Regions from separate parts of the Homo sapiens genome. Here region 1 is linked to region 2. The links come from fine-mapping of genetic effects on plasma protein levels. A gene starts in region 2. The other region holds a variant in brackets. All regions are shown on one strand. Distances are between the middles of the regions. Region 1 overlaps LOC105370866 (a long non-coding RNA gene). Region 2 holds the start of IGDCC4 (immunoglobulin superfamily DCC subclass member 4).

Evidence for each region. PIP is the posterior inclusion probability: the model's chance that the variant is causal. Sun 2018 read protein levels with aptamers (SomaScan).
Region 1: its variant is fine-mapped to the plasma level of the IGDCC4 protein (Sun 2018, PIP 0.92).

Annotation. Positions count from the first base shown.
Region 1 is chr15:65,792,921-65,797,920 of GRCh38, forward strand. All of the region lies in intron 1 of LOC105370866 (a long non-coding RNA gene), which reads left to right. Among named protein-coding and RNA genes, the nearest start is that of DENND4A, 3.1 kb to the left of the region's middle. RefSeq lists enhancers at 1-226, 1-69. The variant CA/C (reference allele first, on the strand shown) is at 2,986.
Region 2 is chr15:65,419,870-65,425,342 of GRCh38, forward strand. It overlaps IGDCC4 (immunoglobulin superfamily DCC subclass member 4), which reads right to left and starts at 3,078. Exons shown (of 20, transcript NM_020962.3): 1 at 2,924-3,078. The coding sequence starts at 2,993. RefSeq lists enhancers at 1,981-2,090, 2,111-2,380, 3,356-3,890.

The DNA of each region.
Region 1 (5,000 bases), 370 kb after region 2:
ATGAGGTTAATAAAGCTTGATTACCCCCATGGGGTTGCTCGGGAGTTAAATTCTATAGTACCTGTGAAGTACTTAGTATAGTGCTTGAAAGTACTCAATAAATGTTAGACATTATTCCATGGACAAATGAAAGAAGAAACAGGACCCCCAAAATCCCTCTGCTTTAAAGTCAACTTTTCCTAAATTGCATAGCCTTTTACTAACCAAGTTTACAACTTTATTTCCTACCTCCAGTTCTTTCATTGTATTCATTCATTCAGTCAACAAACATCCATACAGAGGGTGCACAGTGGTGAGGGAAACAGAAAACCTTTGCCTTCAGGAAACTGCAGTTTAGTGGGAGAAGAGGGACAATAAAAAAGTACTTAAGCACATTTTAAGGGGAAACATGCTATAAAGGTTAGAAAAATAACTGAGGCCAGGCGCCTTTGCTCATGCCTGTAATCCCAACGCTTAGGGAGGCCGAGGCAAGAGGGTCAGCTTGAGCTCAGAAGTTCAAGACTAGCCTGGCAAAATGGCGAGAACCCTGTCTCCACCAAAAATACAAAAAATTAGCCGGGCGTGGTGGCGTGCGCCTGTGGTCCCAGCTACTTGAGAGGCTGAGGTGGGAGGATCGCTTGAGCCCCAGAGCCGGAGGCTGCAGTGAGCCGAGATTGTGCCACTGCACTCCAGCCTGGGTGACAGAGCAAGATTTTGCTTTAAAACAAAACAAAACAATCGAGTTGCATACTTTAAATATATGTAGTCCTCTGTATGTCAGTTAAAGCTGTAAAAAAAGACTTGTTTTTGACACAGAGTCTTGCTATGTTGCCCAGGCTGGAGTGCAGTGGCCTGATCACGGCTTACTACAGCCTCCCTCCCAGGCTCAATTGATCCTCCCACCTCAGCCTCTGGAGTAGCTGGGACTGCAGGTGCCCACCACCACACCCAGCAAATTTTTCTGTTTTTTGTAGAGACTATGTCTCACTATGTTGCCTAAGGCCGGTCTTGAATTCCTGGGGTCAAGTGATCCACCCACCTCAGCCTCCCATAGTGCTGGGTTTACAGGCATGAGCCATTGTGCCCTACCTTAAAAAGCTTTTTTTAAAGTCCAGTTGGGAACCCTCCCAATTCTTTACCCATTGGACACAGATTTAGCCTTTCATTAGTTTTAAGTGTTGCTAGACGTATCAGGTCAATTCCTCTTTAAGGAGTAGCTTGGCATATCAAAATATTCCACTAGCAGCAAAAGCACTCTTTTAGTTGGTTATACATGTATATGTGCATATATATATATATATACACACAAATATTTTCATCTACAGAGTACCAATTAAAATGTTATATAGTTGCATGTAGCATACACAATGAGATTCTAAAACCTTTCAAAAGTTTAAAAGGCGTGAAGGTTTTTTTAATCAGAGAAAATAGCTTCTTAAAGAACAATATTGATAAACAGTAGAAAACCAATACGCAGCATTTGACTGTGTACCCAGGAAGTATCGTACCTCAGAGCCCCCCTTAACAGTCATATCAGGAGTCCTCTCAACACTCCAGGCATATGTGACTATAGTCACAGTTAAACCTAAACCCTAGATGTGATTTGGGCAAGGGATTCTAACAATGTAGACATGAGCCAAATAGAATTTTTTGGATAATAAATTTTGGCCCCATGCCATTTCTGAAATTGTCATATTTTATATGTTGAACTGTATCCGGCTATTTCTTAGAAGTTATTTTAAAATGCTGTGATTTGAATGATGCATGAAGGAAAACTATGAAACCAATAACCATTTAAAGCAATGGAAGCGCAAGCTGTTGTACAGCCTAATCCTCTCCACCTGTTGAATCTATGCACCTTAATTGCTATACCAGAAGTTTCTCACATCTTTAAATGAAAACCTGGAGCCTCTAGAGAGCAATCCTTTTTTTTTAAGACAGAGTCTTGCTCTGTCGCCCAGGCTGGAGTGCAGTGGCGTGATCTTGGCGCACTGCAACCTCTACCTTCTGGGTTCAAGCGATTCTCCTGCTTCCCGGGTAGCTGGGATTATAGGCGCCCTCCACTACGCCTGGCTAATTTTTGTATTTTTAGCAGAGATGGGGGTTTCACCATGTTGGCCAGGCTGGTCTCGAACTCCTGACCTCAGGTGATCCGCTCTCCTCAGTCTCTCAAAGTGTTGGGGTTACAGCCATGAGCCACCACACCCGGCCCATAAAGCAGTCCTTGATAGCTATGCTACAGGGCTTCCTTATGGGTGAGAAAAACTACCAGGGATCTATGGCCTATTAGAAACTATTTAGATGTGTCACAAAGCAGAATCCATATTGACAAATTGTATTCACTGTGAAACAGTGTTTGAGTGACATTCCAATGTATTTAATCCAAAAACTAAAATTTATTAGCAATGTGGTCAAATTATCCATTTGTTTCTTAAAAACACAAACCTGATGAAATTATTTTTGAAAGAAATTATCTGCCAGCCTGGGCAACATAGCAAAACCCCATCTCTACCAAAATACAAAAATTAGCCCATGATGGTGGTGCATGCATGCCTGTAGTCCCAGCTACTTGGGAGGCTGAGGTGGGAGGATCACTTGAGCCCAGGAGGCAGAGGTTGCAAAAAAAAAAAAAAAGAAAAAAGAAATTATCTGAACAATTTTCAAGAATAATAGTAAGAAAAGTCATGTTAGAAGTGACAAATTCTGAAATTCTGGCTGGGCATGGTGGCTCATGCCTGCAATACCAGCACTTTGAGATGCCGAGGTGGGAGAATCACTTGAGCCCAGGAGTTTGAAACCAGCCTGGGCAACATATCAAGACCTCATCTCTACAAAAAAAAAACAAAAACAAACAAACAAAAAACAGACATGGTGGCACATGCCTGTAGTCCCAGCTACTTGGGAGGCTGAGTTGGGAAGACTGCTTGAACCCAGGAGTTCAAAGCTGCGATGAGCTAAGATCCCACCCCAGTATTCTGGCCTGGGTGACAGAGCAAGATCCTATCT[CA/C]AAAAAAAAAAAAAAAAGAAATATAAATTCTAAACCTGGTGCTTGAGAAGAGTGGCCAAGGACAGGAGAGCTGTAGCAGTCTGAGCCATTGCTGTCTCTGCCGTTTTGGTAGCCATCTGAGGAGTCATATCTTTGACTCAGCACTTTTTCAAATTTCTGAAAATGATCACTTCTCAACATTTTCCTCAAATTAACAATTTTACCTCTTTCAGCAATTCCTTATAAGTTGAATTTTTACTTCTTAAATTATCTGCAGGGGAGTTGTTTTAAAAATATGTATTTTAACTGTCATTGACCACGAAGTATACTCCTCTGACTTTCTTGAAGTGGTAGACAATATTTTCATAACTTTTAACAAATTCACTTCAGAAAACATTTGTATACAAAACACTGCACTAGGCACAGAAGGAAAGCAATGACAGATAAGCACACATTAGAGGCAAAAAGTATTTCCTAGGCATATAACTTTAGTAAAAGTCAAACTATGACAAATTCTATGCTAGATGGATAAACTCGTTGCTATGGGAGCCCAAGCGAGTGGAGTGATTAATTCTCATTGTGAGAATTGAAGGTGACAAAATAGACAAAATAGATGGCATTTGGACCAACCCTGAGAGAAACTGGACTTTCTCTGAAGGATAAGGACATCGTTGTTTGGGGAACGGGGCTGAGGGTGGTACAAGGAAGGAAAGGTGTGTTTGTTTGTTTGTTTTTACTTTGCATCTTTATAATAGAGCTAACAAAAGAAAGAGATGCTCATAAATTGTTGCAATACTTTGATTGTCTTTGGGAGTGGCCAGAGGTTCAAATTCTTTGGAAGGATGGATATCTGTGCTGACTTGCAGGAAATATGAGTCAGCTTTTCTCATGAACTCAGCACTGTTGTTATAGCTAGGCTATTTGGGAAACCTGAAGCAGAACAAATCAGACACCACAAGTCTTTTCTTTTTATTGATTGGCCCAGACATGCATCCTACAAGGGTGGACAACAAGAATGCCCTTTTTATTGTCAAGACTTAAAGGAACTCTGCCAGCAAGGGGAAACACCTGCAATTGAGAATAAACTAAAAAAAAAATTTAAAAAAAGCCCTCCTCTTTTCTGTCTATATAATCACTCAGAATAGGAGACACACACGTCTTTAGTCCATACCTCTCTCCTGCACTTCAGGATTGTGTATTCAACTGCCTCCAGATAGCTCAGTCCCAAGTATACCTGAAATTCAGCATTTAAAGGTGAAGTCATTATCTTTACCCCAAACCTGTTACTCCTATAATTTCTCATTTCCTGAATAATTTATAGTTGAACTCACCATGCACCTAAAAGCTAAAGCCGCCTGTGGAGACTGAATTTTTTTTTTTTTAGGAGTTCGAGACCAGCCTGTCCAACATGGTGAAACCCTGTCTCTACCGAAAATACAAAAATTAGCTGGGCATGCACCTGTAGTCCCAGCTACTCTGGAGGCTGAGTCAGGAGAATCACTAGAACCCAGGTGGCGGAGGTTACAGTGAGCCAAGATCATGCCACTGCACTCCAGCCTGGGAGACAGACTCCATCTCAAAAAAAAAAAAAAAAAAAAAAAAAAAAAAGTCAAAACCTGAGTCATCAACTCCTCTTTTTCCCTCATTCATTGACACCTAATTAATCTTGAAAAAGAATTGTTGTCATCTCCTTAACATCAGTAGTATCCTCCCTCACTTCATCCCCATTCCCACTGACCTAGTTCAAACCCACACCTTTTGGTTTGTTTTTTAGCCTGAAATTTTGCAGTAGTCATCTAATTGGATTTCCTATCTCTCTCTCTCTCTTTTTTTTTTGAGATAGAGTCTCTTTCTGTTGCCCAGGCTGGAGTGCAGTGGCGCAGTCTTGGCTCACTGCAACCTCCACCTCCCAGGTAACTGGGATTACACCTCCTGAGTAACTGGGATTACAGGTGCATGCCACCATGCTCAGCTAATTTTTGCATTTTTAGTAGAGAGGGGACTTCACCATGTTGGCCAGGCAACGAGCTCATCT
Region 2 (5,473 bases):
GGGAGGAGATGGGCAGGCACAGGCATTATCCTAACCCCAATACCAGCCCTTCATTCTGCCTCATGTTTTTTTGTTGTTGTTGTGTTTGTTTTTTTGAGACAGAGTCTCACTTTGTCGCCCAGGCTGGAGTGCAGTGGCGTGATCTCAGCTCACTGCAACCTTCACCTCCCAGGTTCAAACGATTCTCGAGTCTCAGACTCCCGAGTAGCTGGGATTACAGGCATGCACCACCACACCTGGCCAACTTTTGTATTTTTAGTAGAGATGGGGTTTCACCATGTTGGCCAGGCTGGTGTTGAACTCCTGACTTCACGTGATCCGCCCGCCTTGGCCTCCCAAAGTGCTGGGATTACAGGCGTGAGCCACCGCACCCGGCCTATTTCTTACTTTCCTCTCTCTCGCCCCCTACAAATTCAATCTATCCTCAAGTTCTACTGATTCTATTTCCTGAAAATCTCTGGAATGCAGCCACTCCAGCCCAACCCCAACTGCCACTATGCTAGCTGCCACCATCCTCTCTTCTGGATTGCTACAACAGCCTCGAAGGAGCTGGAGCTTCCTGCCTCCAGCCCCACCCAATCCATCCTCCACACTGGCTGGAATGAGATGATGCAAAGCTGATTTTAAATCCTGTCAAGGGCTCATGGGGACTCTCAGGCCAGAAACCTTGGTGGGCCCTGTAAAGCCCTTTGTGAGCTGGATCTAGCTCCCCTCTTCAGCCTCCTGTCTTGATACTCCCTGACCCCTTTCCATGCTTCCCTCACCTGCCCCCCATCCACCCCTTGTCCCTAAACTCCAGCTAGATTTAGTTTAATCCAATGATCTCAACTAAATCACCTCTGAACTTTGCACATGCTGTTCTCTGGAAAACTGTCCCCATCATCATTCTCCTTCTACAGGGCTAACTCCATGTCGAGCTCTACTACTCATCACTTTCTTCAGGAAGCTTTTGCTGACCTTCCCAGATCGGTGTAGGAGCCCCTCCTTCCTGCGTCTTCCCCAGCACTTCAGGGGACTTGTCAGTTTCCCCCTCCACCAGACTGAAAGCTTTGCACCAGGGATCAGGTCTGCCTCCTTATTTACTATATTCTAGGCACTAGGCACAAGCTAGCCTATAAAAGGTGCTCCATAAATATTTGTTGAACGAATGAATGACCTCAGTACAGATCAGGGTGGCTAGTCATGACTCGACTGGAGTGTCCCCCGGCCTGCTGAGATTTGGAGGACCAGGGCAAGCTGTTGTAGCCACTCACACTGCAACCAAGAGACGCCGCAACTCGGTCCCTCGCCTGCTTTGTGCGTTCGGGAGCAGGGAGAGGCCAGGGAAGCTGGGTCCCTCGCGGCAGGTCCTAAAGGTATTGAATAATGCGCCGGTGCGGTTCCCAGCCCTGATGCCGTTTAGCTGGGTGACCCTGAGCTCGTTCCAGGAGCCCTAGGAATAGCGGAAGGTGGGGCAGGGGAACTATTCCTTAATCCCCTGAGCTCTGGGAAGACAGACCTCTCTCTGACACTTCCCCGCCCCTTTCACCTGACAAGCCAGGGCCTCCAGCTCCTCTGGCCCAGCAGCCGAGACCCAGCCTCGCGGCGGCCTCCAGCTTAATCCGCTGTTGGGGCTGGAAAGGGGCGTGTCTTTGTAGGGACAGAAGGGGTCCGAGGAGTTCCCGGCACTTTCCCACCCGCTGTTTGGTTTTCCTGGAGATGGGCCTGGGGCTGGCCAGGCGGAGGCTCCTTCCCCCCGCCTCCCTCCCACGTGGCCTGGCTGAGTCTCTCTGGAAAGCCGCAGCAGCTGGAGAGAAATCCCCCTCCCCACCCCCACCTCCAAGTCCCTCCCCGACTCTCCCCGGACACATCCTCAGCTCCCCCCTCCGCGGGGAAGGCAAGAACTAGGCGAACAAAGCGGCCAGCCCATCCCCCTCCCAGCCCTGCCACCTACACTCCCCATGAGCCGCCCCCAAACGCACACCGGACAGGAAGCGACAGAGCTGTGGGTGGAAGCCGCAGCCCTAGACACACACCCTTGGGGACTTCGCTATCCCCTCCCCAGCCCTTTCTCCAGCTTGGACAACTCTGACTTACCCCGTACCCACTCCGCACTGGGCTGCGGACTGGATGAGGCCCTGCTGACCTCGTCCACGCTTCCCTGGTCGGTCCCTGGGGGGTGGGGCCGGGGTGACACGCGTCCCATCGTGAGAACAAGCGCTGGACATGTCCACGAAAGCAAATGGTTTCCTGCCCCCTCCCCCAGTCCACTGCTGGCCACAGGTTTTGGGGAGCAACACCTCCCTCTACCCCTCTCTAACCGGCCCCAGGGACCACACCCACTGGGCAAAGTTGAGTGTTGTTTTATCACCACCACCCCCAGTCAAACGGGATCCATCGCTCTGTCCCCCACTATGGGCAAGGACACTTCCCAAATGCCAAGGCCAAATATTAGCTCAGCCCCATAAACACAATTGCACACGCACCCGACCCAAATGGAGGTGCAGACACAACCCCAGTTCCCTCCTCTTTTACACACACTCTCAACCCAAGACACGCGCAGGCAAGGCAGAGCCCGCCCCGCGAAAGCCACCGACACCGCAGCTACCCGCCCCGCCGATGCCACGCCGCGACCATGGCACGCACTGCGGACACGACAGGAGCACTCCCAACACACACACACACACACACACACACACACACACACACGACTCCAGACTCTGCGAACCAAAGGCACACACCCACTGCGGACAAGCACGCCCCACAAACGCCCCCCGGCCGCAGCTCGCAGACCCCCGCGCAGGCATCGCGGGCACCTGGACGCGCAGCCCCCGCACTTGCTCGGGACTCCGGCTTGAGCCAGCCCCGCAGCCCGATGCAGACCAGGGCGCGGGCGCACCAGCACTCCGCAGTCGCTCCTGCCTCTCCGGGCGCCCGCCCTTACCGCGCGCGGCCAACAGGCAGAAGGTCAACGCGAGGAGCCCGCGGCCGCGGCCGGCGTCCCCCCGCGCCATGGGGCTGGGCTCGGGCCGCCGCCGCCGCCGCCGCCTCCCCGTGCTTCGGCCGCCGCCGCGGGGGGAGAGCGCGCCGGGCGTCAGTGGCCCGGGGAGGCGCGGCGCCGCGGGCGGGGGCGCGGCCTCGGGGGCCCGGGCCCGAGCTGGGGCCGGCGCGGGGGCCAGGGCCGCTGCCGCCTCACCCGCCCCTCCATCGCCATCTTGGGCGAGCGGCCCGGGAGGGGGCGCCCGGCGAGTGTGGCCACCCTGGCCCCGCCGGGGACCCTGCGCCCGCGCGCCACGGCCCTGCGCCTCGCGGGGGCTCCTCTCGGCCCGGGTCTGTGTCCCGGTGCCTCGCCCTCTCCGGGTCGCCGCGGGCCCCCGTGAGGCCGCCTGTTGCTGGGTCTGTCTCTTAGTCTCCCCGTCTCTGAGTCTTCTGGTCTCTCTGCCTCAGCGTCTCTATTTCTTCTCCCTGTTGCTGCCTCGGGGTCTCCACCTCCGTTCCAGGCTCAGGGGAGGCAGATTCAGGGCCACGGTCTTTGTCCAGATGGCCCCCTTGCCACCCGAGCCCAGTCCATTCCAGCCCAGGTCCTGGCCTGAATGCTGGTTCGCTTCTCCACACGTTGCGCCAGCCCACCTGCGGAGATCTTGATAGTCCTATCTGCCATCCCAAACCAAGGGCTTCTCTTGGCCTCCTTCCCTTGCTCTGGCAGTAACTAACACAGGCAGGACACTTTTACACTACCTTCAAGCACTACCATATTCAGATGTCGCCGCATGGGGAAACTGAGGCTGGAGAAGGTGAAGTGACTTGCCCAAGGACAGGAGGCTAGGGAGCAGCAGATACAGGACCTGAACCTTGGTTTTCTGACTTCGGAAGGTCATCTCCACTCCCTCACCCTGCCTCTGCTGTCCAGCATTTACTGAAGTACCCTTTTTCTCATTCTTCAACGGTACTTTCTCTAACCTACCTAGCCAGACTGTTTGCCTCAGTATCCCGCAAATATTTCTTGTTCTACAGCCAAGGGTTCAATTGTCAGGCTAGGGTGGGGAAAAGAGTACAGATTCAATGACCTAGTTAAGGTCCTTTCCAACTCCAAGATGCCATAGTTCTTCCCTTCCCTGTGTCTCTAAGTGTTCCTGTGACTTAGAGCCATCTTGTCTCTACACCTGTCTGTTGTCAGTTAACCCTCAATAATCACTGGCGCTTTGCATATCTAACAGGCCTGGCGTTTATTCATTCATTGCCACGCCCCATCTTCACTTGCCCTATCAGCAGCATTTGACTTAGTGAATCACTCCCTCTTCCTTGAAACACTTGCTTCCCTTAGTGATCTCATCTGGTCCTCAAGGCTTTAAAGAGCATCTTTATGCTAATGATGCCCAAATGTATACTTTCAGCCTAGACCATCTTTCCTGAACCCTGGACTTCTGTATCCAGCCATCCAGGCCCCAGTTCCTTTAGCTGTCTAGTAGACAAACTCATCCTGATCTTTTCTATCAATCTTTCTCCTCCCACAGTCTTCCTCATCTCAGTTCCTTTCCTGTTGCCCAGGTCAAAAATGTAGAGGCCAGGCTTGGTGGCTTACGCCTGTAATCCCAGCACTTTGGGAGGCCGAGGTGGGAGGATCGCTTGAGGCCAGGAGTTCAAGACCAACCTGGCCAGCATAGCGAGACCCCCATTTCTATTAAAAAAAAATGTAGAGTCATCTCCTACTCTTCATGTTCAGATGCTTCACCCTCCACTTTCTCACTGTGGCCTTGGTCCAAGACCCGTCGCCTCTCACCTGGATTGTCACAGCAAACTCCTCACTGATCTTTTTCTGTCCTTGTCCTCCTTGAGTGTTTTCTCAATACAGCAGCCAGAGTGCTCCTGTTAAAATGAGATCATGCCACTTCTCTGCTAGAAACCCACCAGCGGCTCCTATGTCAGAGCAAAAGCCAAAGTCCTTATTGTGACCCACAAGGCCTATCTGATCTGTAGGCTTGCTCTACCTCTCTGACCTCCCCTTCGACACCACCCCCTGTGCTCACCACCTCTCCAGCCACACCATCCTCCTTGCTGTAACTTGATCGCGGGCAGCCTCCTCCCCTCCAGCCTCAAGACCTTTGTCCGGCCAGTGCAAGTCTAGAGATCTGTTCCCTCATACTGGATACCATAAAGGCTTTCTCACAGCCTCACCCCCTACTCTTCCTATCCTCCTTCCCTGCTGTCTATTCTTGTCTTTAACTGTCACTTTCTTTTTTATTTTATTTTCTTTCTTTTTCTCTTCTTTTTTTTTTTTTTTTGAGACAGAGTCTTACTCTGTCCCCCAGGCTGGAGGGCAGTGGCTCACTGCAACCTCCGCCTCCTGGGTTCAAGTGATTCTTGGGTCTCAGCCTCTCAAGTAGCTAGGACTACATGCCCAGCTAACTTTTTGTACTTTTAATAGAGACGGGGTTTCATCATTTGGTCAGGCTGGTCTCGAACTCCTGACCTCAAGTGATCCACCTGCCTTGGA